3 separate regions of the Homo sapiens genome follow, and regions 2 and 3 are each reported to be linked to region 1. Evidence: microRNA targets listed by miRTarBase, many of them from high-throughput screens and not tested one by one. Region 1 holds a microRNA gene; each other region holds the end of a gene's coding sequence.
The links. The annotated mature microRNA hsa-miR-4684-5p reads CUCUCUACUGACUUGCAACAUA and lies in region 1 at 1,842-1,863, shown strand. An mRNA with a match to its seed (bases 2 to 7 or 8) in the 3' UTR can be bound and repressed. Matches are read on the target gene's strand: a 7mer-m8 pairs with bases 2 to 8, a 7mer-A1 pairs with bases 2 to 7 and ends in A, and an 8mer does both.

Region 2: miRTarBase lists TBL2 as a target of hsa-miR-4684-5p. Seed matches in the 3' UTR shown: 7mer-m8 at 2,652-2,658, 7mer-A1 at 2,556-2,562 and 7mer-m8 at 1,182-1,188.
Region 3: the mRNA of PGAP1 is a reported target of hsa-miR-4684-5p. Seed matches in the 3' UTR shown: 7mer-m8 at 1,870-1,876 and 7mer-m8 at 2,710-2,716.

What each region holds. Positions count from the first base shown.
Region 1 is chr1:22,717,689-22,720,688 of GRCh38, forward strand. It overlaps MIR4684 (microRNA 4684), which reads left to right and starts at 1,829; the gene lies at 1,829-1,910. The region is part of intron 1 of EPHB2 (EPH receptor B2); the gene reads left to right. RefSeq lists an enhancer at 1-165.
Region 2 is chr7:73,567,576-73,570,687 of GRCh38, forward strand. TBL2 (transducin beta like 2) reads right to left here. Exons shown (of 7, transcript NM_012453.4): 7 at 1-3,112. The coding sequence ends at 2,932. Among named protein-coding and RNA genes, the nearest start is that of TBL2, 9.4 kb to the right of the region's middle.
Region 3 is chr2:196,838,478-196,841,589 of GRCh38, reverse strand. It overlaps PGAP1 (post-GPI attachment to proteins inositol deacylase 1), which reads left to right. Exons shown (of 27, transcript NM_024989.4): 27 at 218-3,112. The coding sequence ends at 356. Among named protein-coding and RNA genes, the nearest start is that of C2orf66, 31 kb to the right of the region's middle.

The DNA of each region.
Region 1 (3,000 bases):
GTTTCCGTAACCATTAAATGTCAGCAGCACCCTCGTGCCCCTGGCCAGAATGACTTGTCCCTTTCTCTGAAGTCCTACAGAGGCTTTGCTTAGCCCTGATCACTTTCTCTCCTGTTCTATAAACAGCAGAGCCTGGGGGTTACAGGAAATGTGTGTGGAGTCAGACTGCTCCGTACTGTGTGTCCTCTGGCTTGTGTTTTCACCTCTCTGAGCCTTGGTTTCCTCATCTTTCAAATGGGGGTAATCATTGTTCCTAGCTCTTGAGATGGTTGTGAGCAATGGATGTGTTAATCTGAGGAAGACTAAGCTGAGTGTGTGCCTCAGGTGTGCTAAGCTTGCAATAAATGTGAACGGTTGCTATCCTTGCTTTCTACCAATGGGAAGCTCAATTCACAGTAGGGGAACAGGGGGCCAGTGTACCAGGTTTTTCATCTCCAGCTCTCCCCCACCCACTGTGTTCTGAGCCTTACAGGGCAAGGGTCTGACTGGCTTGCCAAGTAGCTGAGAGGCCCCTCCAGCCTGCCCACTCAGGGTACCATCCAGGTTTTCTCAAAGGCCCCCTCCCCACTCCAATTCAGCCTCCCTAATCTGGGAAAGGGGTAGACTCCTTCATGGCTGTACCCTCCTTCTTTGCCCAGTGCCTGCCAGGCACCACCTTCCCTGCCATGATCATGGGAATGGCTGTCAATTCTTTTTTTTTTTTTTTTTTTTTTTGAGACAGAGTATTGCTCTTGTTGCCCAGGCTGGACTGCAGTGGTGCAATCTCGGCTCACTGCAACCTCTGCCTCCCGGGTTCAAGAGATTTTCCTGCCTCAGCCTCCCTGAGTAGCTGGGATTACAGATGCCTGCCACCATGCCCGGCTAATTTTTTGTATATTTTAGTAGAGATGGGGTTTCACTATGTTGGTCAGGCTGGTCTCGAACTCTGACCTCAGGCGATCCACCTGCCTCGGCCTCCCAAAGTGCTGGGATTACAGGTGTGAGCCACCGCGCCCAGCAGCTGTCAATTCTTGTGCCAGACATTGTACTAACAGCATTATGTGTGTTGCCTTGTGCAGTTGCCCCAAGAGCCCCACAGGTCGTTGTATTATTGTGCCCATTTTACAGATGAGAAAACCAAAGCTCTGAGAGGAGTGACTGGCCCAAGGACACCTAGGGAGTGGTGAGGCAGCGATTGAAACCCAAGTCTGGTGACTCCAGAGCTCATGCTCTTCTCCACTTCTAGAATGTGCCTCCCTGCTCAGAGGAAAGGCTTGGCTCTGATGAGGGTCTCTAAGGCAGCTGTCCAGCTTCCAGCTCCATCAACATCCTGAGATAATGCAATGGGAGGGTTCTACAACTCACAAACCTGCCATAAAAATGCAATCTCTGTGATAATGGTCAGAATAATGTTGTTCTAACTTAGACAAATCGGGTGTTAACTCATTATGTTGTAAGGGGCGCCTCCACAGAGAATGGAGACTACGAAACAGTCACAGGGCCATTTGCAGCTTGTACTTCCAAATACAATAGCTCATCAGGCCTTCACAGCCATCCTGAAAGGGGCAGGAGCCACGGGGCCCACTTTAGAGATGAGGAAACTGAGGTCTGGGAGATAATATGACTCGCCCAAAGCCAGCAGCGGGACCAAGCTTGAAGCCCAGGGCCAATCTTAATAGCTCATCTATCCAGTTCAAATTCTTAGCCAACATTTGAAAATCAAGAGATTTTACAGAAAAGTCCTGTTTCTGGCGTTTCTGAAAAGTCAGACAATCTGGTTTCACAGGGCCCACATTCCCACATGGCCACAGTTGGCTGGAGTGACTGCCTCTTAAGACAGAATGTGTGAGCACCAGGGGTACCTCTCTACTGACTTGCAACATACATTTGTCTTGGTGTGTTGCAAGTCGGTGGAGACGTACCCTTGGTGCTCAACCCCTGTAAGGGCTTGAGTTTGCCTCCTGGATCTGCCCCTGTTACCCTGTGTGACCTGGAGTCAATTGCATGGCTTCCCGAGCCTCAGCTCTCTCTTCTATAAAATGACAGGGGTGAGACTCAGTGATTTTGGAGGCCTCTTCCAGCTCCAGGATTCAGTGCCCATTGCCAGGGTTCAGGGGTTCAGGCAAGGGAAGGGAGAGCTACAAAAAGTACAGGACTCCACTCCTGAAAAGCATATCACTTATCTTTAGCAAGCCACCACAAAACCTACTGGCTTAAAACAATAATGATTTCTTAGTTGTCCTGATTCAGTGGATTGGCTGGGCTCAGCTGGGTGCTTATTCTGTTCCCCGGGTTGTCAGTTGGGATCACTCAGGAGGCTGCACTCAGCTAGGTTGGGCTGGAAATTCCATCGTGGCTTCACATACATCTTTGAGGCCCTCATAGAGAAGGCTGGAAGGCTGGTCCCCCTACGCTCCTCGCTATCTCCCATCCTTTGCTAGTCTAGACTGCGCCTCTATCCATGGCAATTAGCTCCCAAGATGGTGAAATGGAAACTGCAAGGCTTCTTAAGGGCTGGGCTCTAATGTCACAAAGTGTCACCCCTGCAGCCTTCTGTGGTGGTCAAAGCCAGTCACAACACCAGCTCAGATTCATCCCAGGCTTCCTCATCAGGTTCAAGGAAAAGGAAAATATACTGGGCTTGATTTTTTTGTTTTATCCTTGAAGAGAAGTCCCATTTCTTGCTCAGCTGTTCAGCATGGAAAATTTAATGGTGGGTTATCCAGCGTCCCACTCAACATGTCCTGACCCACTGAATCAGGTGACACTCAGAGTTCAGTGCCCGCCCCTGCACCCTGTTGTTGTCCATGTTTCTTGGGCCAACCTGTGGTCCAAACTTGAATCTAGACGCCCCCTTACTGGGAGGAGTGGCTTCGTGTTTAGTAGGGGGAGGAATTGTTGGCAGCCATATTTGGAGACAGCCTCTCACAGGTAGTTTATCGTCCAGTCCAGGGATGGCGGTGGGGAGGCAACAGGAAGCCAGAAATCTCATTCCCCCCCCCCCCCGCCCCAGCACTTACC
Region 2 (3,112 bases), not on the chromosome of region 1:
ACACCCACAGATGTTGAAATTATAATATTAAGATACAATTACTGCCTTCACATGCAGGATTTTTGATTAAAAAAAAGAAAAACCTTGGTGGCCTCTGCTCTATGTTAATATCCAGACACCTTCTCTGTGGTTACAAGAGAAGCTTGAGTGAGGGCACTTTCTGTCCTCAGAAGTCTGTGGAATGACTTTTTGGTAGTGTTTTCTCGTCTCACTGAAACACAACATGGCAAGGTGGGTAGCACAGGATTCATTCTTATTTTGCAGCTGAGGAAACAAGCTCAGAGAGGTCAACGGACCTACTATCTGCTCTCCAGCTGGAACTGGAACTGAAGACATCTGACTTCAGTAACTCAACATTCTACTGCCACTTCCTGTCCTGGATACACAACGGGAGTAATGCCAGAGCTGCTTCTAAGAACAGGTGCGCAAAGGAAGTGTTTTAGTCTCATTCTTCTGACAATTGCCAAGGAAATACTCCTCAGGCCTTGTGTGCACAGCATTGCCAAAAGTCTGTGGTTAGGAACATACAAAACCACAATGGAGACTGGGAGTGGGAAGATGCGCGGAGAAGATACTGGGAGGTCTGTGGCTTGCCCCTGGCTTGAGTTTCACATTGAGTGCTTACACTGTCCCAGGTACTGTGCCTGGACCACAGAGCTGACAGTGGGATGGTCCAGGAGTCTGCCCGGTGGTGCTCTCATTCCAGTGGGTTCAACAGTGAGCCAGAAGCTGCCAATAAGAGAGTAGTGGACTGCATCGGGCCGACCTTAGTGTTTTGTTTGGTCCAGATAGTGTTTAGTTATTTAAGTTGCTCACTTCTAGCTTCTGTGAAGCAATTTCTGCTGGATTCCTGAATAAGTAGCAGCCACCCCCCATCCTGCAGGCAGGACACAAGCCCGCCCTCCAGCTCACTTCTGTCCCCACCTTCTACTGCCTTACACCCAGGTAACTGACCCTTCACACATTTACGGTGCCCATCTGACATTCATAGCATTTAGAGGGGGGACGAAGCCAGGTTACACAGGACCTTGCAGGCCATGGTAAGAATTTTGGATTAAGTGTTTTTAGCTAGGCACGATGGCTCACACCTGTAATCCCAGCACTTGGGGAGGCCAAGGGGGGTGGTGGATCATTTGAGGTCAGGAGTTCGAGAGCAGCCTGGCCAACATCGTGAAACCCTGTCTCTACTAAAAATACAAAAATTAGCCAGGCGTGGTGGCACATGCCTGTAATCCCAGCTACTCTGGAGGCTGAGGCAGGAGAATCGCTTGAACCTAGGAGGCGGCGGTTGCAGTGAGCCGAGATTGCGCCATTGTACTCCAGCCTGGGTGACAAGAGATTGTCAGAAAAAAAAAATTGTTTTTACTATTTTTGGTTTAGAAAAATTCTTTTGGATTTTATTCCAAGTGTGATGGGAAGCCTTGGGGGGTTTTAACTAGGGAATAATGTGATCTGGTTCACATTTTCAAAAGATCATTCTGCTATATAGAAAAGTAATGAGGCAACAGAGGAAGCAGGAAGATCCATTAGGAAGCCATATTATAGTGGCCCACTAGGTGACAGTAGCCAGGACCAGGATGGTAACAGAAAAGCTGGAGAGAAGCAACAGCCTCAGGATGTCACATGGAGTGTAACCAAAAGAACGTTCTGGTGAACAGATGACAGCTGTGGTGGTGGGACAGAAGGGATAATGAATGGGGAGTCATCAAGGATAACTCCACGGTTGTGGCTTGTTCCAACATTGAGAGGTCAGGGGCAACCAGGGGGGGTCATAGTTTTCGTGAGAGAGATCAAGAGTTTGACTTGGGATGAATAAATTTGCCTACACTCAAGCCTTCCCAGATACCTCATTTCCCTTACCTGCCACACCCACGCAGCCTTCAAATTCACAAATTTAAACTTCTCAATACCGACTCTCTTATCAAATGTACCCCTTCAACTTCAATACCCATTGCCTCTGTCCTGCTCTGGTCCTCTCTTGCCTTGACATATATAACAATAGCTATGAATAAACTAACACAAAGCACTTAATAAGGGTGTATCTCTCTCTCCCACCAGCCATCTTTGATGGCAGAAACCATGTCTTATTCGTATTTAATCCCCAGCTCATATTTATTTGGGCACAGAGTGGGCACTCAAATATCTGATGAACTTGATGAACTGAAAAGAGGTCTCCTTAAACAAGATATCATCTCCCGAAGAGAGAAGTCCCAACCATATAAAATGTATGATCAAGTCCCAGAAAACTTTGCCTTCCCAAGGAATGTGTTTCTAATTTGGTTTCAAAGCACACTGGTTCCCACTTTTACCACTTTCATGACATTGGACAATAGTACTACTCTTTTCTACTTTTCTTCCAGACCTGGGGACTTGATATTCTCTTAGCCTCATATCATCTTTGCAAGGAGTTCACAGAGAGGATTATTCTCCATCTTACAAATAGAACTGAGGCCCAGAAGGAAATCCCTTAGTGTCTTTTTGATGGAACACAGTTCTGTGATGGGAAGCTATCCCAGTCTCCCATCCTTGCAAAACTGCTGCTTAGTACTCAGGTGTTCTCTAGGTTGTTCTGGAACATTTACAAACTTCTTTGGGTGTGAGGATGTGCTGCCACAAGGCCAAAAATCACATTCTCTCTCTCTCTCCTCTCCTCTCTACCATTCTCCTCAGTGCCAGGTGGGGACAGATTCCACCCACTGGGCCTGGGAGGAAGAAAAGCACCTTGGCCACTAGTCAGGGAGGAGTCACAGCCAGCAAGAAGAGAGAGACCTAAGTAGACAAGAGTAGTTTCAATGGGAAGAAGCAGGGCCACCAGTAAGAAAACCAGGAGACTCCTTCTGAAAGGCTTCCACCTGGGAGGAAAGATGGCAGCAGTGCCATGAGGAGGCCAGATCCCTCCTCCTCAATCCTCTGCGCCGGGCCCTCCCAGAGTCACTTCTTCAGGGCACCCAGGCTCTTCAGGGTCTCTTGGGCCTGGGTCAGCTGCTGCTGCAGCCTCTGGCGGGTGCTCTCGTTGGAGGCCCGCTTCAGGTGGCCCTGCATCTCCTCCACCATGGCTCGGTGGCCAGGAGTGTTGTGAAACAGCCGCACCGCCCGGTCCCCACAGGAGGCC
Region 3 (3,112 bases), not on the chromosome of region 1:
GCCGAGATTGCGCCACTGCACTCCAGCCTGGGCAACAGAGTGAGACTCCATCTCAAAAATAAAAAAAGAAATTATGAATAGGTAAATTCATATCATTAAAAATTCATTTAAATTCACTTAGAATATTTATCTTTCCAAAACTGTATAAAAGATTGATATAATTTTGGCTCACAATGTAGTTCACATAAGTAATGTATATTTCTCTGTCTCTTTACAGTAAATTGTTGAAGACTACTTCACAATTTCCACTTCCTCTGGCTGTTGGTGTGATTGCTTTTGGGTCAGCACATTTATATAGGCTTCCATGCTTTGTCTTCATTCCTCTTTTACTCCATGCATTATGCAACTTTATGTAAGATTGGACTTAAGGAATGATGAAGATAATTTATGTGTTTAGGGCCAGTGATAAGAGGGAACACACAGATCCATCAGTATGGACAGCAAGATCCTTTGGAGAAGACAAGTCTATTTTTACAATATTGAAAATAGGAAATTAGTTTTGTAATGTTTGAGGGAAGTAGTTGAAGCATGGTTTTGTTTTGTGGTGTGGAATCCATGTAGTAATCATTTTTGAAAAATTCATGAAGGGATATATGGTGATCACTATCATTGAGGACTCCTGTGCATATAAAATAGTCTGTTTTATCAACTGTACGAGAAGTCTGATATGAGAGATTTAGTAGATGCAGCATTATTTGCAGTCTCACTGCAAGCATTCTGCTCATTTCATCAAACTTTTTTTCACAAAAGTAGGTTATTTTGAATTTGCTATAGTTTACCTATTAAGAAATAAGTCTTTAAATAACTGATGAAATTTATAGCTGTTTGGTTTCTCAAAGGTTAAATAGCCACAGAAAGCCTTTGGTTAGTTTTTGGCAGCCACCATGAACAAAGTGGATCTTGTCTTCTTACATCTATGAAAATAGAGCTTTGAATGGTAAGGAGATATGTTTTCTTGGTAACCAATGCAAGATTGATGGGTGGAAACATGATTCAAACTTACACAATTTTTCTTGCTATTTTTCAAATATGAATCTTACTATATATTCTCGGTGAACATCAGGAGACTATTAAAGAGGTCTGCTGTTAAATGTAAAGAAAAAATGCTCGTAGCTATTTGCTTCCTGGTATTGGAGCAGTTCAGTTGTTTAGTTTATACCATTGGATTCAATTCATTGCACCATGGTTGCCAAAAGTGCCTGAGGTCATAATGGATTGTTAAAATAACTAAATTCCAGTGGTTGGAAACTCTAGGTTTGTACCATTTTTTCTGCTGTGGGAAAAAACAACAACAACAACATGATCAAGGTAACATCACATTTGATGTATAATATTATACTATTAATGGAATATCAGTAGACAACTGTTAACCCATTAGTAGCATGAGTATAAACAGTACACCTGAATAAATTGGAGACATTAGCCACTAGGTTTAACAGTGGAATCTTGATTTGCCTAGGTGACTTCTGGGATTACTGTTTGACAAATAAGAGTAACATTTTATTTCATTTCAGAATTTACGTCACTTTTAGCTACAAGAGTAGGAAGAAGGTAATCGGCAAGGCAGAAGAGTATACTCTTTGCCTTAGGATAGCGTAAACTCAGGCTGAGACATACCCGGCTTATAGAGTTCTTCTAGATGTGTAGACTGTAAATGCCCAAATCCTCTCAACTAAAGTTTTAGTGATTCCACAAAGCCTCTCATGTAAATTTCCAGTGATTCCACCATTGCACTTGTGAATATGTATCCTTGTTAGTACCCAGGGATGTCCTCGAGCACCAGTTTTATTTTATCTGCCATTGCATCTGGATTCCATTACAGCCTCTCAGCTGTTACTGCCTGTGGACAGTTACTTCTGCTTACTGCCTGTAGAGAGTTACCTAACTTCTCTTCTCAGTTCTTCCTCAGGTCCTGGCTATTTTGGCCTCAGTTGAAGGGAGTCTTGCTCTCATCTCTGAGGGTTTTAAGTTTGTTTGATCCCATTGTTGTCTTTTCTAGCTTTGAGCATGTTTTTCAGTATTCATATTTTAACTTACTGAGAACATTAAAGGGAAATGATAAACTCGTGGTGGGGATATGGCAGACAGGTGCTTGTTTGTTTGAGAGAAGTAGCAGAAGAGATAAAATACAAAGTGCTATATGTTTCAGCTGGAGAGGAAAGAGAGAGAATTTATTAGATTATATACTTGTCCCATGGCATACCACGTATATGTTTAAATAGGGACACATCTCCCTATGTTTAACTATACTTATAAACAACTTTGATACACATTGCGTCTTTTATTCTGTCACCTGATATTTTAGTGTATCTCAAGTTACAGATTACATGTGTCCTTAAACTATTTCTGAATTTGGACTTAGTTCCATATACAGAAAGAACTTTAGAAAATTCATTAATTTGGATCTTCTATTGATAGCCATAAATATTATGTTTATGTATTCTAAAACCTCTTTGTTTAGTTAGTACTGTTCATGAATGTAACAAGCTTCAATTTCTCATTTGTGAGTAGTACATTTGCTTTTTGTTTGTTTGTTTGTTTGTTTTTGAGATGGAGTCTCACGCTGTCACCAGGCTGGAGTGCAGTGGCGCGATTTCAGCTCACTGCAACCTCCACCTCCCAGGTGCAAGTGATGCCCCTGCCTCAGCCTCCCGAGTAGCTGGGACTACAGACACCCGCCACCACACCTGGCTAATTTTTGTATTTTTAGTAGAGACGGGGTTTCACCATGTTGGCTAGGCTGGTCTCAAACTCTTGACCTCGTGATTTGCCCGCCTCTGCCTCCCCAAAGTGCTGGGATTACAGGCGTGAGCCACCACGCCCAGCCGTACATTTACTTTTTAAAGCAGCAGACTAGGTACACTAATTCTCACTCAAATATTTTCATGGGAATGTAGTTATCACCAAGTCCTAAAGTATTATTTATGCCAAAAAAAATTTCATTTTAAGGACTACAAAAATGATTCTAATTAAACATTTTATAATCAATAGTAGGTTGGGTCTTTAGCCATTATATGTGTATATATACAGACACATATGTATACACTTACATTTTGACAGGGTCTTCATTGAGTCTTGATGCACTTTAAACCCAGCTGGCTACCAGAGATGC